Homo sapiens: one gene and its partners. The protein of the gene in region 1 purifies or fractionates together with the protein of each later gene. This does not show direct contact. Each region holds a gene or a part of one and is shown in the gene's direction. Other genes may lie near its edges.

Region 1 (3,500 bases):
GGAGGTGACTGGTGAAGGACACAAGGTTTCTTGTCTGGGTGATGAAAGATTCTAAGTCGATCATGATCATGGTTGCACTTGTCTGTGACTACACAAAAAGCCAGTGACTTGTGCCTTTAAAAGGAATTGTCTAATATGTGAATAGTAGTTCAATCAAGCTGTTACCAAAAAACTAATAAAATGAAAAGAAAATGTGTTAAAAATGAATGAATCAGACTTAGAAAGTAAGTTAGGAGTCATTCCCTCTGCAATTCCCTGGAGTATTCCCTTGGTCTTACTGAGACTCACTTAGGTGCCAACATGTCCTTAACACCTCTCCAACACATACATCTTCCTTTTGGATTAAAAGCAGGCCCTGGGCTTCAGATTTCAGCAGGCTGCAGTGTAATAATAATAATAAAAATAGGCTGGGCATGTAATCCCAGGCCAAGGTGGGGGTATCGCTTGAGCTCAGGAGTTCAAGACTCGCCTGGGCAACATGGCAAAACCCCATCTCTACAAACAAAAAAAATTAGCTGGCTGTGGTGGTGCGCGCCTGTGGTCCCAGCTACTTGGGAGGCGGAGGCAGGAGAATCACCTGATCACCCAGGAGATCAAGGCTGCAGTGAGCCATGATCACACCACTGCATTCCAGCCTGGTTGATAGAGCGAGACCCTGTCTCAGAACATAATAATAATAACGGTGATAATGATGATCATGAAGTAGTAATAGCGAGTAGTATTCGAGTTCATGATTGAGTATTCGAGTATAGCGAGTTCATGATCATGAAGTAGTAAAAGGGAATAAGGGAGTACATGATGAGTGTACACAACACAGTAAAATAATCTGGTAAACATAGCAGTGTGCCAGGCACCATTCCAAATATGTCCTGTGTATGGACTCACTTAGTTCTCACAGCAACCCCAGCACACCCTGGTAAGGAGGGTTCTCTTAAGATCCTGTTTTCCACCCAGGAAAAGGTCCCAACCCAAAGAAGGCAAACAATGCCCCAAATTCGTACAGCTGGTGAACGGCAAAGATTTGTGCCCAGGTGGACTGGCACTGGAATCTGTGCTTGTGGCCCCCACGCTGTGGTGACGGAGAATCCAGGGCCATGTTGGGGTTGGCATTATGTTTATTTTTATGTTTATTTTATTTTTCATGATCTGTGGTACTGGTTTCCCATTGAAGGGAGTGATACATGCTTTTCTTTAAAACCAAACCCTGTCCTGACATGGTGGCTCACGCCTGTAATCCCAGCACTTTGAGAGGCTGAAGCGGGCAGATCACTTGAGGTCGGGAGTTTGAGACCAGCCTGGCCAACGTGGTGAAACCCCATCTCTACTAAAAACACAAAAATTAGCCAGGTGTAGTGGCAGGCACCTGTAGTCTCAGCTACTCTGGAGGCAGAGGCAGGAGAATCACTTGAACCCAGGAGGTGGAGGTTGCAGTGAGCCAAGATCGTTGCCACACCCTTCTCCTTAGTGAAAAGAGTGAGAGAGTTAATATTGAAGTAAGGACGCATCTTTGAGGACAGGTGGACAGGTGGAAGCGGCTGGGATTTCAGACACAGGGCTGAGGGGGTCACAGCATGGGCTTTGGGGTCAGATTCAGATATTTGCCAACTGTGTGATCTTGGACACATGGCTTCACCTCACCGTGCCTCAGTTTCCCTTATCTGTAAAATGACTTCCTAGGGTTATTGAGACAATTAAAAGGGTTAATATGAGTAAAGAGCTTAGAGAACTGCCAGCACATAGTGAACACTGGTAAATGTTAGCAATTGCTACTATTGTTGTTTAATACTTTTACTAGTTATATGAACACTTGCTGTTTGCCTGGCATGCAACTCAATGACTCACCAATTTCTCACTACAACTTCTGGGGATAAGTGATTATTATTTCCATTCTACATCTGAGAGCTCTAAGACTCAGGCAGGTGATGTCATCAGCAGGCAGCAGGCAGCAGGCAACAGGCAGGGCTGCCAGGAACCCTTGCATAGGTTGTGCACTGCACAAGGACACCACATCTCAGGGTTACCACTCTCTCTGTAGACCTGTGTATTTATTATTATGATTTTCTGCTAGGTGGAAGTCAAATGTCTCAAGATAGGAGTGTCTCTCTCTCTCTCTCTCTCTTTCTTCTCTCTCTCTCTTTCTTTTTTTGAGACAGAGTCTTGCTCTGTCACCCAGGCTGGAGTGCAATGGCGCAATCTCGGCTCCCTGCAAACTCTGCCTCCTAGGTTCAAGCGATTCTCCTGCCTCAGCCTCCTGAGTAGCTGGGATTACAGGCACCTGCCATCTGTAATCCCAGTGCTTTGGGAGGCTGAGGCAGGAGGATTGCTTGAGCCCAGGAGGTCGAGGCTGCAGTGAGCCATGTTCCTGCCACTGCACTCTGGCCTGGGTGACACTGCAGGCTTAGAAATGAAAACAAGCTGTGTTAAAACATACATGTTATGAAACTTTGGACACGTGACTTGGCCTCATTTTCCCCCTCTCTAAAATGGGATAATATAGACCCTACCTCTCTGGGCTGATGAAACATTAAAGAAAATGGTGCAGGAAGGCGCCTAGTATGCGATGAGCTCTTGGTACGTGGCGACTTCCGTTGTGGCTTTTTTGTTTGTTTGTTTGTTTTTGAGACAGAGTCTTGCTCTGTCGCCCAGGCTGGAGTGCAATGACATGATCTCGGCTCACTGCAACCTCCACCTCCTGGGTTCAAGTGATTCTTCTGCCTCAGTCTCCCGAGTAGCTGGGATTACAGGTGCGTGCCACCATGCCCGGCTAATTTTTGTATTTTTAGTAGAGATGAGGTTTCGCCACGTTGGCCAGGCTGGTCTCAAACTCCTGACATCAAGTGATCCTCCTGCCTCGGCCTCCCAAAGTGCTGGGATTACAGGCATGAGCCACTGTGCCCAGCCTATTGTGGTTTTTTTTTTAAAGAACAGAGAGGGCAGGGTGTGTTAGGGGCCATGGTAGCAGCTGGACAGAGGTTTGTACCAGGTGGGGCAGGCCAGCGGGGGCTGGACCAGCATTGTCTCTCTCACAGAATACATCCAGCCTGTGTGCCTCCCAGCTGCCGGCCAGGCCCTGGTGGATGGCAAGATCTGTACCGTGACGGGCTGGGGCAACACGCAGTACTATGGTGAGTCCTGTCCTCTGCCTCTGATGCCACCGTTTGGGAGACTCTGAACTAGGCTGGGGATGGGCAGTCTGGCTGGTTGGATGAGTCTTGACCATGAGGAGTAGGGACGCTGAGGGGAATGGGGTGGGCACCAGGAGGGAAGGGGGGTGTGTACACCCCCCAGCTCTGGCCAGCCTTGCCTGCACACCCCCAGGCCAACAGGCCGGGGTACTCCAGGAGGCTCGAGTCCCCATAATCAGCAATGATGTCTGCAATGGCGCTGACTTCTATGGAAACCAGATCAAGCCCAAGATGTTCTGTGCTGGCTACCCCGAGGGTGGCATTGATGCCTGCCAGGTGAGGGACTCTGTAGGGGCAGCCCCCTGGTCGCTGCCA
Region 2 (3,500 bases), on another chromosome or scaffold:
AGTTAAAAGGTGTTTCTATGGCAACTCCAGGCCCTGCACCCTATGGAAGTGTTTAGGAGAAGAATAAACTACATGCCGGCTTATAAGACACACTGTGGGGGAAAGAAAGGGACTTGGCAGCAGGCAGGATGTCTGTGGTCCCCCTCCCTGGCCAGTCATTGCCCCTGAAACTCCTGACAAAACCTTGACTCTAGAAGAGGAATGGGAGGGGGCTGGAGATGAAGAAGGCGGCCTCGGCCCGGGCAAATCTGCCCTGGCAGCTCTGTCCAGCTCAGGAAGGGGTGGGCTGTGCCAAGGGCTTTCTGAAAATGTGCGTGTGTGCGTGTGTGTGTGTGTGCGCGTGTGTGGCTTCTGCAAAGGTGGCTGGCAGGGCTGAGGGGGGTTGCAGCAGAGAAAGAGAATTTTGCTTCAGAATGCCAAGCCCTTCTCTCCTTCTCTCTTGCCGCCTTTGCATGGGAGGAATGGGGCTGTAGGATGAAGTGTGTTCGGGGCCTGCCTCTGAGCCTGTTGGGAATTTGAGCATGAGGCTCAGCTGGGGGGCCGGCTGCCAGCCCCAGAGGATGGCCCCTGGATAGCTCCAAATTGTTCTGACAGGGGCCAGTGCCAGCAGATTCTTTCAGTATCAGATCTGAGGTTGTCGTTTTAGCAAAGAAGCCATTTTCAAAGAAACCAGATCCATCCCCTCTCCCTCTTACACACAATTACACCTCAACACTGGGCTTTGCAACTTAAGGAAAATAGAAAGAATCAGACTTTGGAGAGGCGCCAGCACTTGGTAGGGCAAGTCTGGGGGACCCAGGCTGTGGATGTCTTGGAACCATGGAAGGAGGAGAGCTGCTATCCAGCTGGAGGAGGGAAGAGACATGTCTTAGGCCCCTCCTGGTTGCACGCACTTCCCAAATGCCATCTCTTTCACCCCCTCCCCCGACCCCCCACAGCAACCTTAAGAGTAGGTATTGCACCCATTTTTCAGATGGAAAACACTGAGGCTGAAGAGACTGTGCTTGTCCAAGGCCACCCAGTTGCTAAATGATAAAGCTAAAACGTATTATCAGTTATACCATGCTTCAAAAACCTTTCAACTTTCATTGACACATGACATTCTAAGGTGACCAGGAGATGGAATGGATGGTTAACATTTGAAGAATGCTTTTCTTCTACATCTGGGTTTTCTTTAAAAATATGAAGATAGCCAAAATGGCCAGAGGTTTTAATTAAACATCATCTTTAGGGAGGGAGAGCTTATTATTATTCTAGTGTATCATAGAGGAAAATTCTAATGTTCTTTGGCTATTAGATCTGGAAAAGACCCTTGAAACCATCAAGCCACAGTAATAAAAGGACTTGGTTTGTCTCACTGTGGCCCAAGGAGAAGTAAGGTTAATAGAGACAAGACATTTCAGGGCTTCAAGACTCTTCCCTTAAAGGTGGGATCAGTTAGGGCTCCCCAGTGGGAGGTACCCGGTCTGCCAGTGTGGTAGGAGGAAAGCCAGGGGGAGTCAGGAGACTGGGTCCCAGCTGGAGAAGGTGCCCCTCTGACAGTTCTGTGTCCCTTTCACAGTCCCTGGATAGATAAGGCTAGAAAAGTGGCCACAGAAGTAGCTTGGGTGGAGGGATTTTTGTTTGTTTTGCATGAACAGCAGGAACCATTCAGCTCCACTGCTGAATGGCACATTCCAACAGGTTCATTAATTAAAAACAAAAACAACAACACGATTCTCCATCGCACTTGGCTTTTACCATTCCAGCCAGTATGGACAAGGAGGCCCCTTCTTCTACCTTTTGTCATAGTCTACTCCTGGGTGGCCTTGAGAGGCAGGGTGGAGTGGTGGAAAGGCAATGGGGAGGGCAGATCTGAGCTCCACTCCTTCCTCTGGGGCTTGTTGGCTGTGTGTGCCTAGGCACATATGGGCTACCTTTGAGCTTTAGTTTTCTTATTTATACAAGGGGAATAACAATTTGTACCATCTTGGCCTGTTTTATCTATATTTTAAAAGCTACAAGTATATGAATACATTCTATGTCCATGTATGTATCTCTCTGTATATCTATGATATATCCATTTCTATTTATCATTTATCATCTATCTATCTATCTCTCTATCTAAAATCGGAGAAGAGTAAAATCCTTTCTGATTACTTTTTCTAACTCTAGTCCCTTCTCCAAATCCTTTTCTTCCTATACATTTACATACATAGGTATCCATAGCAAATTTATAGTAGTTTTTCCCTTAGAAACATGAATAGTAGAACATTAAACATCATGGAATACCACATAATACCACATATAGTATTCTGCTTGTTTCCCATTCAACAATGCGTACTAGAGATCTTTCTACTTAATATATATATAAAACTGTCAGAGGAGCACCTTCTCCAGCTGGGACCCAGTCTCCTGACTGCCCCCCTGGCTTTCCTCCCACCACATTGGCAGACTGGGTAGCTCCCCCTGGGGACCCCTAACTCATCCCCACCTTTAAGGGAAGAGTCTTGGAACCTTGAAATGTCTTGTCTCTATTAACTTTACTTCTCCCTGGCCACAGTGAGACAAACCAAGTCCTTTTATTACTGTGGATTGATGGTTTGGAGGATATATATATATAAATATATAATATATAAATATATAATTTATATATAATATATAAATATATAATATATAATATATATTATATATAATATATATTATATATAATATATATATATTATATTTACATATATATTATATATATAATATATATATTTCTTTTATGTATTTCATGAGGTTATAATTTTAAACAGCTAATAAGTATAGAGTGATTACTATGTGCCAGGCATTATTCTAAGTCATTAACTTACATTAACTCATTTAATTCTCTCAGTTTTATGAGGGAGGTGTGCTATTGTCATCTCCATTTTACAGCTGAGGAAACTGAGGCTTAGAAAAATGAGGTAACTCGTTTAAGGTTATACTGCTAGCAAGGAATACAGCCTGTATTTAAGCCCCTTCACCCTGGCTCTAAAATATATTTAACAACTATACTATAGGTCACATTATACCATATCATATTATATATACTACTACATACTCTTATATTATTATAATTATATAATATGCATTTTCAATTTTAATAGTTCCTGCCAATTTGGCCTCCACAGTGGCTGTGTTAACACAGTTCTTTTCATATATGCAACATGAGGGGATGGAGGAATGTTAGAGCCCTGTGCTTAAGAGACTCCCATGCTTCTCTCAAATAGAAAAACAATTTATAATTTTTATTGACTTACTGAGTGTTTTTTTTCCTTCTTTTTGTCTCTTTGAAAGGGAGCAAAATTAGGGCCACGAAGATCAAGTTAATGGGAGTATTTTCATAGGGAGAGGAAGGCTGCAATGCCAGGAAAGCTGTGACCCTTGACTTGTTGCATGCTGGAGTAATTCGGTTGAAGATAGCTTTATGTATTTATTTTGCTTTCAGAATAAGCAGTGGACCATTTATTACACCAAGTTGTTTGACTTTGAGGACT
Region 3 (3,500 bases), on another chromosome or scaffold:
GCTTTGTGATTGCTTGTTTTGAATGGTGAGCATTGTATTTTGTTTTAAGTTGTTTTCTGGTTGTTATTACAGCTATGAAGTCTTACACTCCATATTTCATTCTCCTGTGGAGTGCTGTTGGGATAGCGAAGGCTGCCAAAATCATCATCGTGCCGCCAATTATGTTTGAAAGCCATATGTACATTTTCAAGACGCTAGCCTCAGCCTTGCACGAGAGAGGCCACCATACAGTGTTCCTCCTCTCTGAAGGCAGAGACATCGCCCCATCTAATCATTACAGCCTCCAGCGCTACCCAGGGATCTTTAACAGTACCACCTCAGATGCTTTCCTACAGTCCAAGATGCGGAATATTTTCTCTGGGAGATTGACAGCAATCGAACTGTTTGACATACTGGATCACTATACTAAGAACTGTGACCTGATGGTTGGCAACCATGCCCTGATCCAGGGTCTGAAGAAAGAAAAATTTGACCTGCTGCTGGTGGACCCTAATGATATGTGTGGATTTGTGATAGCTCATCTTTTAGGGGTTAAATATGCTGTATTTTCAACTGGCCTTTGGTATCCTGCTGAAGTGGGTGCTCCTGCTCCATTAGCATACGTCCCAGAGTTTAACTCACTCCTCACAGACCGCATGAACTTGCTGCAAAGGATGAAAAATACCGGTGTTTACCTCATTTCCAGATTAGGGGTCAGCTTTCTGGTTCTTCCCAAATATGAAAGGATAATGCAGAAGTACAACCTGCTGCCAGAGAAGTCCATGTATGATTTGGTTCATGGGTCCAGCCTGTGGATGCTGTGTACTGACGTAGCACTGGAATTCCCAAGACCCACTCTGCCTAATGTTGTTTATGTAGGAGGAATCCTAACCAAACCAGCCAGCCCACTACCAGAAGTAAGGTTTGCCGAATTCCTTGGTAATTCTTTTTTAATGTAAAAGTCAATTTTGATTTTTGGAAGAGATATGATTTGTTATTTATATATATTGTATATATACAGTACACTAAAAGGTGATTAGGACATGGGGCCTCCAAAGTCCCTTTATGTGGGTCCACCACTTCCCTGGGAAACATTCCTGCTTTGAATGAGCATTTCTGTAATACTGAAAAGACCACTATGCCATATGGTCAATAGACTGCCTGGGAAGTAGTTTTCTGATTAAGTAATAGTTATAGTATGTGAGGAGAATATAGTTAAATGGTTAATTTTAATGAGTATAAGTGATTTTATCTTTAATTACACACAGAATCCCCTCTGTTCTGCCCCAAATAGCACAATTAACAGGTATATATGTTTAGCTTCAGGTCAGTGAACAGAGGTTCTTCTCTGGGAGGTTATTACCACTAGTTTATGTCCAATAATGAAAGTGAGGTGGTAACTTCCATCAAAGTAGGGAGTTGGTTAATTTAAGCTAGTAAGTAAATGTAATGGTTTTAAGGAAAGCATGCTCTATTGCAATTTCATTTCAATGATGGAATCAATGGCACTTTAAGAAACTCTGTTCTCTATGTGAAACTTAAATTCTTTTTATTGATTGAGCCAACAGTAAATCCCTTGGTATTCTGTTCACCATCCTTGTTTTTTATTAGGTATCCCACATTAGCAGAAGCCATACACATACCTATTGTTGTAGTGAGTTTTCTAACCTCAGATTGAATCTCTCAATTTAACCTCAACATCAGATCCCATTTACTAGGAAGTGTAGGGCTTGTTGCAGGACTTTATTCAAGTTACTTTTAATCCTACCTCTGGAAATAGCCACTCAAAACAATTTTGCTAAATTGTTGATTTCTAGTTCTGGTACTACATATTAAAAATTCTATCAGGGCCTTGATGAAGAGTAAATCCAGATTTTCTCGTATAGATGAGGACAATCACATGGCTGAATTTTGTCGTGAGGCAATAAGGTGATTAGAAATATACGACCTGTAGGCTTTTCTAATATGGCCATTAGAGTTATAATTAATAAATAATATATCGATATATTTCATATAACATGGAAACAGAAATGGCCTGTACACCCACAGCATTTCAAATATATACAGCCACTGGAGGCCATGAGGGCACACTTGTTCTCTCTGACGTCAACTGTAAAGGATAGGGATTAATCTCAGCTTATCTTAGCCATTCTTGAATTTATCCAAGCTCATTTTGAATCCTCAGATCTTCTCTGGCAGAGTCACCTTCCTAAAGGTAGCTAAAATCAGATTTTAGAAGTAGCTTCTAAAAGATTTGGTAATCAAGGTGTGTCTTTACCTTAACTGAGTCATTTAAAATGTTACACAAATCATCCTTGTTCTCTCTAGGTCATCATCTTTTCCGAGCTAGAACACTCCCCTTCTGCCAGCTCCCTTTGGTTTTCATCTGGGTGATGTCTCTCTTCTTCAGTCACTTGATTGAAGAAGAAGTATATGATGAAAAGGAGCTGGACGCGGTGTCCCATGCCTGTAATCCCAGCACTTTGGGAGGCCAAGGCAGGAGGATCACTTGAGTCCAGGAGTTCGAGACCAGCCTGGACAACATAGTGAAACCTTGTCTCTACAAAAAATAAAAATTAGCTGGGTATGGTGATGCATGTCTATAGTCCCAGCTACTCAGGAGGCTGAGGTGGGAGGATCACTTGAGTTCAGGAGGTCGAGGCCGCAGTGAGCTGAGATCACACCACTACACTCCAGCCTAGGTGTCAGAGTGAGACCCTGTCTAAAAAAAAAAAAAAAAAAAAAAAAAGGAATGTCCTGTCCTGATTGCCTTTTCTTTCCTTCCAGTTCCTGCTGTATATTTGTCTTGAGTTGCAGCAACTTGAATGACACAGTATAAGTGTAGGAAAATATTTTATGTTTTATTTTCAATACTCTACCTTTCAAAAAGATGCATAGCATGTGATAATTTTTTTTCTACCATCCAAGCATTTTTTTCTGTCATGGATTCCTCTGCACACAGATGTCCTTACTAGTGTCACTATTTTGTTTTACATGAAAAACATCTTTTTAGTGGTTTTTGGTGCTCGACATAAGGTATTACTCAAAATATCCTTTAATTTGCCATAATTTCTCATTTGACACTGGCTTGACTTTCTTTGTGGAGTTCTTTTTCCTCTGGGCTATTTGTAGTGGTTCTTTTGAAATGCGTTTTTTGTTTACAAAGTTTGCTTTGTGCCAGTTAGTTTGGTTGCATGCACAGACATGGCATGTGTGCATGTGTTATATATAGTATGTGGACATAGATAAGTATATTATTATTATTGGAAGTCTATTAGATTATCATTGTGAAGGGCTGTTTTCATTTCAGAATGTTATTTATAGTTTTTGAGCAGGGAGTATTTTGAAGAATGATGTGCAGTACTCTTTCAGGTATTCCTTATTCTGGTGTGGTTTTATATGCTTATGAACACATGTTCCCACTGAGATTTTTCTAGTAGATTTATTTGAGATAATAAACTGTACCTTTTCATTCTAAAAGTTAATGAGTTTCTCAAATGCCTGTATTATTTACAGGGCAT
Region 4 (3,500 bases), on another chromosome or scaffold:
GTAGCTCAGTTGTCATGTACACTGGATTTTTTTTTGACCACTCGTACATGTACATATAAACAGAAACCACATGGAAAAGGTACATTGGTTATTATAGGTTTAGACTGCTTCCTACTTTCCAGGGGTATCATAAAATAAAGCTGTGGGTCTTGAATATCATCTCTTAGTAGTCTATATATGAAAGCCTGTGGATGATGTAACTCTTCAGATCCTCATGAGTACATGAGTGTTTTTAAATTGTCTTTTGTGGTTTTGTTTTTTAGATAGTAGTAACACTAAAAAAATGTAATGGCCTTGGGTGAGCATGAAGTCACAGTGATGAGATTTTGCTTTTGCACCTTTCAGCTTACAGAATCAAGTGATTACTTTTAAGAAAAAAATTCTAATTTCTAAAATTGGCTAGTCACTGAAACCTTGTATATTTTCAAAGAAAAATAGAAAAAATTTGAGAGTGTAGAACAAACTGGCCAATACAACTGGAACATTTCTATTGTTAGAGCAGCAAAACCATTAAAAAGTTAAATAATGTCTATATGAGTTATAAAAATCAACAAAATAGGAAATGTGGTCTAAAATGTGATTATTTTTTTCCTTTCCTTCAAGTTCTTATTCCCTGATGCTGTTTCTGAGAAACCATTAGATGGAACTACTTCAACAGATAATAATAATCCTCCATCAGAGAGTGAAGACTATGTAAGTTGATGTGGAGTTCAATGTTAAAATGTTTTAAATGCACTGAATTTCTAGAGGTTCTATATATTTCTAGTTTAATAGCTTACTATATTTTTATTTTAAAAATCACCTTGGGAATTTTGGATGGCAGATCGTGGTTTCCACTTAGATAACTAGCACAGATACATATTTTGGGTAGCAAGAATTTTTCTGGAAACAATGAAAAAATAGCACAAATATACTCTACACAGCTGTAGGATTTCCCTCATTGTAGAGTTTTGGTGAAATCATTAAATTTGTGTTTCTCAGCAGATTCTTTTTGATATTTTAAAACTAGTTAGTGAATGGACAACTCTTTAATGAAGTAAAATGTGTAAAATTAGGTAAAATTTTCATGGTCTCTTTGTCTAGTCTTTGAAAAATTAAGAAGTTGAAGAATTTAAATGACAAGTGTAGATATATATCAACCTTTACAGTAGTTATTGTTGAGAAGTAGATTTGATGAGGTGAGAGAAAAAAGCAAAGGCTTTTTACATTTTCAGTTTAGATAGTTATGATTTTTGTTTTTTCAGACGTGCTCATTTTTGTAATTAAAAGATTTTTAAAACAACACATGAAATTTGGAATACTTCCTAAATATTCCACAGAAGAAATTGAAAGCTGTAACTTTAGCTTCATTAAACTATAGCTTTATCTTTTTTAATCTTAGTAGAAATCTTGAAAATGTGGGACTTCCTAAGAATAGTTTATGCAGTAGTGTATTAGACATTTGATAATGCCTAGTTTAGGTGGGATAGGTTAATTTTACAATTAAAATCTCTCCCTACGACCTTTTCAGTTATATGTGTAAAATATTTTGGTAACAAGTTTGCTTTGTTTCTATTTTGTTAAATTTAGAATCTCTACAATCAGTTCAAGTCTGCACCATCTGACAGTTTAACATACAAACTGGCTTTGTGTCTCTGTATGATCAATTTTTACCATGGAGGGTTGAAAGGAGTGGCACACCTCTGGCAGGAATTTGTTCTTGAAATGCGTTTCCGATGGGAAAACAACTTTCTGATTCCAGGGTAATAATTTCAATTTTCAATTGTTTGGATACGATTTTGTTTGTTAGCAGACATTTGACTTTTGACCTATTTTTTCCCCCTTCTAGGAAGTCTGCCCTAAGAAAGTGGCAAGAAGCTTAGACATGATTTATGTTCAGAGGTGTTCACTGCAGCAAATTTATTAATATAATAGAAAAAAAGGCAAAACCTAAATATCAAACATAAAAGAATAGTTAAATAAATTATACTGTATCTCTACAATAGAAAATTAGATTGATTACAGTTTTTCCCCCAATAATCTTTAATAACAGATGTTCATATTGTTTCTAATAAAGTAGAATATTTTAATGCATATACAAAGTACTTTTAATTATGTTGCTATATTTGTACAGGAAAAATATTATAAATACTGTGAAATGCTATCAGTTTTTCCCAGTGTGAAATTATACTTTTATTTTGTTCTTTATACTTTTATGCATTTTCAAAGTCTTTTGTAATAAACCTGTTTTTTGTAATTGACATTTTACTTAATCAAACAGAACATTTTCATTAGCACATAGGTTGATATTGCATAGTTTAGTGCTCATCTACCCATGCTATGATAGGAGAATCATGATTTTGAGCAATATAAAATGATTACTGATCCAAAAACATTTATATCATTTGCCAATCTCTGCTTAGCTGGATTCTCTCTTGGTTTTAGACAGTCCGCTCTGGAACATTTTACAGACCCAGAAGCATGTTGAATATGAGGGAGTGCCTCTGGCTGATTGCTGGGAACCTAGTAGTCTAGAGGAACCTAGAACTAGAGACAGTCCAAGGTCCTATTGAAATACAGGTGGAGATCTTGGTTTTTATAGTGAGAATCCACTGTAAGAATTTAGTACTGAATACACAAACTGATTTATTTTGTATGGTGTGAAATACTGTATGCTAGTACTTCCTGGAGTGGGTTCAGGGGCTTTTTCTCATTTTGAGTTTTTGTTAGCCTGAAAACTATCACTAATTTGCTGTTATGTTTTGAAATATCTATTATATTTGCTATTGGTGATTTGTGGACAAGGAGTATAAAATAAATTTTCATCTTTTAATTCTATGTGCTCCCCCTCTGGAATTCACTTACCTTACCTGTGGAAATCTAGTTTTGATTTCTTATCAATATAGCTAAAAATTATGGTAGTATAGAAAATAATCATATCTGAAGCAATTTTACTAAAACTAAGCTTTCTTTTCTCCTTACTTTATTTGATAGATTAGCAAGTGGACCCCCAGATCTGAGGTGTTGTTTACTGCATCAGAAACTACAGGTAAAGATTTCTCAATGACATGGATAAATGTGGTCTTGATTTAATCAGATTATTCTAATACTAAATGTAATAATGGGTTACATGCTGTTCTCATGGTGCTGCTGTAGGTTGCCTATAGTCAGTAGTCACTGCAATTCACAAGGTCCTGAGAAGTGGAGAGTGAAAATTAAATATTCAAGCAGTAGGTAGATTTTTATTTTTCTGTAACTAATTCAACTATAAATGTTATTTCTCTTTTCTTAAGATGTTAAATTGTTGTATTGAAAGAAAGAAGGCACGTGATGAGGGGAAAAAGACAAGTGCTTCAGATGTCACTAATATATATCCAGGGGATGCTGGAAAAGCAGGAGACCAGTTGGTGCCAGATAATCTAAAAGAAACAGATAAGGAAAAGGGAGAGGTAGGAAAATCTTGGGATTCCTGGAGTGACAGCGAAGAAGAATTTTTTGAATGCCTAAGTGATACTGAAGAA

What was found.
Region 2: the proteins of HPN (region 1) and TIMP3 purify together in Homo sapiens (co-immunoprecipitation; 2 studies listed by BioGRID and IntAct, with this or other methods). This does not show direct contact.
Region 3: the proteins of HPN (region 1) and UGT8 purify together in Homo sapiens (co-immunoprecipitation; 2 studies listed by BioGRID and IntAct, with this or other methods). This does not show direct contact.
Region 4: the proteins of HPN (region 1) and RAB3GAP1 purify together in Homo sapiens (co-immunoprecipitation; one large-scale study listed by IntAct). This does not show direct contact.

What each region holds. Positions count from the first base shown.
Region 1 is NC_000019.10:35,062,221-35,065,720, forward strand, and holds part of HPN (serine protease hepsin precursor), read left to right. Parts: intron 1-3,029; coding exon 3,030-3,125; intron 3,126-3,318; coding exon 3,319-3,461; intron 3,462-3,500. UniProt on the Homo sapiens protein: Serine protease that cleaves extracellular substrates, and contributes to the proteolytic processing of growth factors, such as HGF and MST1/HGFL. Plays a role in cell growth and maintenance of cell morphology.
Region 2 is NC_000022.11:32,804,705-32,808,204, forward strand, and holds part of TIMP3 (metalloproteinase inhibitor 3 precursor), read left to right. Parts: intron 1-3,500.
Region 3 is NC_000004.12:114,622,807-114,626,306, forward strand, and holds part of UGT8 (2-hydroxyacylsphingosine 1-beta-galactosyltransferase precursor), read left to right. Parts: exon of another isoform or gene 1-72; 5' UTR 73-74; coding exon 75-896; intron 897-3,500. UniProt on the Homo sapiens protein: Catalyzes the transfer of galactose to ceramide, a key enzymatic step in the biosynthesis of galactocerebrosides, which are abundant sphingolipids of the myelin membrane of the central nervous system and peripheral nervous system.
Region 4 is NC_000002.12:135,132,292-135,135,791, forward strand, and holds part of RAB3GAP1 (rab3 GTPase-activating protein catalytic subunit), read left to right. Parts: intron 1-603; coding exon 604-693; intron 694-1,569; coding exon 1,570-1,742; intron 1,743-2,973; coding exon 2,974-3,028; intron 3,029-3,272; coding exon 3,273-3,500. UniProt on the Homo sapiens protein: Catalytic subunit of the Rab3 GTPase-activating (Rab3GAP) complex composed of RAB3GAP1 and RAB3GAP2, which has GTPase-activating protein (GAP) activity towards various Rab3 subfamily members (RAB3A, RAB3B, RAB3C and RAB3D), RAB5A and RAB43, and guanine nucleotide exchange factor (GEF) activity towards RAB18.